2 separate regions of the Homo sapiens genome follow, and region 1 is linked to region 2. Evidence: fine-mapped expression QTL. Tissue or cell type: whole blood. Region 2 holds a variant in brackets; the other region holds the start of a gene. All regions are shown on one strand. Distances are from middle to middle.

Region 1 (2,500 bases), 22 kb after region 2:
TGGGCCTTCCTGGCGTACGTAAGACGCTCTGCAAACACAGCTTCCAGCCCACCTGCCAGTACCAGCTGCCCGCCCGGCCCCCGTCCCGCATACGCATTCCGCGGCAGCCTGGACCTGGGCGCCCCGTCCCAGGGCGGCGGGGGAGGGGCGGCCACTCACCTCCGCTTATACTCGTCGCGCTCGCGCTTCACCTTGGCCAGCACGTTGTAGAGCGCGCGGATCTCCGGCGTGATGGTGTCGATCTGCACGCCCACGCCGTCGGGGTGCACCCACGACACGCCGGGGCCCTGCACGGTCTCCACGCCGCCGCCGCCCGTGCGCCGCACCTGCGTGTAGCTCCAGATGGTCCCGGGCAGGCGGCCGTAGTGCTGCGGGTGCGAGCCGCCGCCGGGGGGCAGGCCGCCCAGGGCCACGGCATTGGCGTTGGCGCCGGCCGCCGCGCCACTGCTGAGGCCGTGCCCGCCGCCGGGCGCCGGGGGCCGCAGCAACTCGGGCCCGGTCTGCACGGCCTGCTCGCGGGAGAAGGTCTTGTAGCGCAGCCGCCGCTCGCGCTCGCTCTGCTGCTGCTCCAGCTGCTTCTCCAGCAGCCGGTTGCGCCGCTCCAGCTCGTGCACCTTAGCCAGGAAGCAGCGGAAGCGCACGTTGAGCCCCTTCAAGAGGTGGATGTTGGAGCCCAGGTCGTCCCGCAGCGCCGCCGTCACCGGCGACGGACCCGGCCCTGCCCCGCCGCCGCCGCCGCCCCCGCCAGGGCAGCCCCCGCCGCCGCCGCCCGGCGGGCAGCCGAAGGCCAAGGCCATCTCCCCGAACAGCAGCGAGTTCACCATGCGCCGGCTGCGCGGCTCAGGGCCCCGGGCCCGCGGCTCCAGGTGCGGCTCCAGCTCCGGGCAGGGCTCCCGGCGCGGCCGGGCCAGGGTGGGCGCGGGCTCCAGCGCGGCCGGCCGGGCGGTTCCAGATGCGCGCCAGATGCGGCCTCCGCAGAGACGGCAGGACGGATGGCCCCGGATGCGGGCGCCGAGGCGAGAGAGGGCACTCGGCCGCTCCTCGGGACGCGGTGGAGGCCGCGGTATCTGCGCGGGGCCAGAAGGGTCGCGGGTCTCACCGCCCGGGCTGTCAGAGACGCTGTGGAGGGGCCGCGGCAGCCGCACGCAGAGGACTCTCGGCCGGCACTGCCCCTTCTGCGGCGGGCCCCGCCCACTGCAGACACTGGCCCCGCCCCCGCCGCGGCCCCGCCCACCCCTCCTCCCTCTGCGGCGTTCCCCGAGCCCGAGGCTCCGCCCCACGAGGCCCGCAGCGCCGGGCCCCACCCACAGACCCTCGGCTCCGCCCACCTCCGGGTTCTCCCGCTTTCTCCGCAGCATAGACTCCGCCCAGCTCCCCGGCGGGGCCACGCCCTCTCCTGCGTCTGGTCCTGCCTCCCCGCCGGGTGCCGATTCTCTGCTGGGGGACCCGGACCGCAGAGCTGCACCAGGGACCGGGTTAGCTGGAACCGCCGCAGAGCCAGCCGGGCCTCTTAAAGGGGCCAGCAGCCTCGGCAACGCTCGCTTTCCACTTTTTAGGGCGCTCCTCTCCCACGTCGCCTGCCGAGAGGGCTCCGTTTCTCTGTCCTCTCTGCCCGCAATGCCCCTGGCCCCAAATTCCTTCGGATGTGCGCGACCGCGGCTGGAAGGGCTGGGGGACCACAGTATCCGAAGGTGCATCGGCACCCCACCCCCACTCTAGCCTGGGGAGGCCCAGATCGACCTTTCGGGGATAAGAGGGCGCCCGTGCCCCACGCTGCGGACCCGGGGGTGGGCTCCTCGAATGCTAGCTGCGGGCCTTGTCCTCTCGAGATCGGCCCGGGCACAGCTAAGCCCGCTGGTTCCCCCGCCCACTGAGGAGCCGAGCAGCATGGGGGTTGGGGAGGCCGAGCAAGACCCTCCCGGGATGACACCCACAAACTCGGCCTGGGCCTCGCCTCTGCTGAGCTGCTCAGCACCTCCCCACCACCCACACCCACACGCTGAGATGAAGCTGACCCCGAGAGCTGGGGATTCATTTCACAGACATGGGGCTTAGCGGGCCGCCTGGGGCAGACCGAGGCAACCCGAGGACCCATTCATTCATTCATTCATTCATTCAAATGTTTTCACACCTACCACGTTAAAGGCCAAGTTCTCCAGTCTCTGGTGTCTCCTGAACCGTGTTGCAAACATTAGTATATGTCAGGCGCCATACTTATTTATTATCCCCATTTTACAGAGAAGGTCACTGAGACGTTAAGTAGCCACAATGGTCCAAAGTGCATGCTCTAACCGGCCTTCCACAATGCTGGCCTCGGGCCTCGTGTCCATTTCCGCATTTGGTCCTCACCGCAAACCTCAGAGGGGAGGTGACCCCCACCTTGAACCCCCACCTTTGAACGCCTGTGGCTTGCATTGTATGCACTTAACCAGATATGTGGCATGTTTCAGATACTTCCGACTGCATTTTTTACTAGCAGTTTAATTTTTGTCTTGTTATT
Region 2 (2,780 bases):
CATTGGTTCCCTTCAGCAGCGACGTGGGTGGCTGGGGATTATGGGGTAGAACTGTCACTCTGTCCCCTCTGTATCTTTTCTTAATACACATAACAGGCCAGGCACGTTGGCTCACGCCTGTAATCCCAGCACTTTGGGCAGGTGGATCACTTGAGCCCAGGAGTTCCAGACCAGCCTGGGCAACATGGCGAAACCCCATCTCTACAAAAAATTTAGCCAGGTGTGGTGGCACCGCTTATAGTCCCAGATACTCAGGAGGCTGAGGTGGGAGGATTGCTTGAGCCCAGGACCTCAAGGCTGCAGTGAGCCAAGATCGCGCCACTGCACTCCAGCCTGGGTGACAGAGCAAGACCCTGTCTCAAAAATAAATAAATAAATAAACCATATAACATAGAATTTACCATCTTAACCATTTTTAAAGTGGCATTAAGTGCATTCACACTGCTGTGCAACCATCACCTCCATCCATCTCCAGAACTCTTTCATCTTGCAAAACTGCAACTGTGCCTGTTAAGCAGTAGTACCCCGTACCCCTCTCCCCGCAGCCCCTGGCAACCACCCTTCTACTTTCTGTCTCTGTGGATTCGACTTCTGGGTACTTTGTATAAATAGAATCAGATAGTATCTGTCCTTCTGTGAATAGCTTATTTCTCTTATTTCTTTTTTTTTTTTTTTTTTTTTTTTTTTGAGACAGCGTCTCACTCTGTTGCCCAGGCTGGAGTGCAGTGGTACAATCACACAACTCACTGCACCTCCACCTCCTGGGCTCAAGCAATCCCCCTGCCTCAGCCTCTGGAGCAGCTGGGACTATAGGCATGAGCCACCATGCCCAGTTAATTTTTAAAAATTATTTTTTGTAGAGACGGGGTTTCACCATGCTGTCCAGCAGGTCTCGAACTCCCGGGCTCAAGCAATTCTCCCACCTTGGCCTCCCAAAGTATTGAGATGACAGGTGTGAGCCACCGCGCCCAGCCTGGCTGATTTCATTTAGCATAATATCCTCAAGGTTCATCCATGTTGTAGTGTGTGTCAGAATTTCCCCTCCTTCTGTATCTTTTTAATTTTGAATGATGTCATGTATACCTGCTCAAAACATCAAAACCACTTAAATTTTTAAAAGACAAAAATACCTGCTCGTTTTCCCCTTGCTTTAAATTGCATGAGTGTTTACAATGATTACACAAGAAATAGAAAAAGAAAAAAACAGGTAAGCCAGATAAAACCAATGTAAAACCCACCCAAATGAATCCCCCTCCCTGAGAGAATTACGGTTAACATCGGCTCTATATCCTTCCCAACTTTTTCTTATGAGATTTTCTCTTCTTATGAGATTGGTTTTTAACGACAACGGGATGCGACCATATGTGGTTTTCAAATGCATTTTTTCCACCTAACAATATACGGCAGCATCCTCCCGAGCAGGTGACACAGCAGGTGGCTGCAGGGCCACTGGTTTGATGGGTCCTCCACTGTCAGCGCAGAGTCCTTGCAATCTAAACAAGACTGTGAACACCTT[T/C]GTACCCTCACATTTGCATATGTGTCCAGGTATCCCTCTGGGATACCCAGATTGGGTTTCTGGATCAAGTGTGCAGATGTAGAAAAGGCTTTTGTGCCCCTCTAAAGAGCCATGTGTGACGTGTTAGAGAGAACGCTCTCTGGCATTCTCTACCACAGGCTCCCAGTTGCCCAGGGAGCCAAGGAAAAGCAGGGTCCTGGGCCCTTACTCCAGTTCCTGCAGCAACAATGTTTTGTGCCTTAGTTTCCTCATTAGTCAAAAGATTGCCTCCGTTGGGTGCAGGAAGACTCCGCTATAAATACTGTTCTTCCTCACCAGTGGCCCTCTACCTTCCCCAAGGAGCAAGGGTTGGGAGATCAGGCTCATCTGAGAAATGGGCCAGACACTTCTTCTCCAAAAGGGTAGACAGAGGTCTCACCTGGTGGGTGATAAGCCCTGGAGAACAAGGCCACGTGCTAGGGTAGAGTAAGGCTGAATAGCATCCCCCCAACACCTCCAGCCCCCCTGTGCCAAGCTCCATCACACCTCCAAGGCATGGGCTGCATTCTCTGCCCAACAGGTTCTACACCCCTTCCCCTTTGTCCTTTTCCTCTCTCTCTCCCTTACCTAATGTGACTTCAGGACCCAGCTTATAACCCCCTCCAGGAGGCTGACCCGACTCCTTGGTCAGGGTCAAGTGCCACTATTCTGTACTACAAAGGCTCTGGGCCACTTGGTATTGAGGTTACTGATCCCCTGCTGGTCTCCTCTGCTTAACTCATCTTTCTTTTCTCTCTCTCCTTCTGTCTTTTTTTTTTTTTTTGAGATAAGATCTCGCTGTGTGCCCAGGCTGGAGCACAGGGGTGCAACAACAGCTCTCTCGACCTCCTAGGCTCAAGGGATCCTCCTGCCTTAGCCTCCCAAGTAGCTGGGATTATAGGTGCATGCCACCACACCTGGCTAATTTTTCTATTTTTTTTTTTTTTTTTTTTTTTGTAGAGACAAGGTCTCACTATGTTGCCCAGATTGGTCTCAAACTCCTGGGCTGAAGCGATCCTCTCGCCTCAGACTCCCAAAGTGCTGGCATTACAGGTGTGAGCCACTGCGCCCGGCCCTCATCTCTTTCAAGATCAGGCCCATCTATGGGTCACAGCTGCAACTCCAGTGCCCAGCACAGAGCCTGGCACATAGGAGGCCCCATAAATATTCACTGGATTAAAAAGGCCCAGTAAGTGTCATCTCCAGGGCCTTCTCTAGGAGATCCAATCTAGGCCAATGCAGCCCT

What was found. PIP is the estimated chance that this variant, and not a neighbour inherited with it, causes the effect.
Region 1: IFFO2 starts here. The variant in region 2 is fine-mapped to the expression of IFFO2 in whole blood (INTERVAL, PIP 0.95).

Annotation. Positions count from the first base shown.
Region 1 is chr1:18,955,509-18,958,008 of GRCh38, forward strand. IFFO2 (intermediate filament family orphan 2) reads right to left here and starts at 1,168. Exons shown (of 9, transcript NM_001136265.2): 1 at 160-1,168. The coding sequence starts at 824. RefSeq lists silencers at 1-110, 351-610, 1,181-1,350.
Region 2 is chr1:18,933,398-18,936,177 of GRCh38, forward strand. The region is part of intron 1 of IFFO2 (intermediate filament family orphan 2); the gene reads right to left. Among named protein-coding and RNA genes, the nearest start is that of IFFO2, 22 kb to the right of the region's middle. RefSeq lists enhancers at 1-319, 1,971-2,516, 2,517-2,780. The variant T/C (reference allele first, on the strand shown) is at 1,517.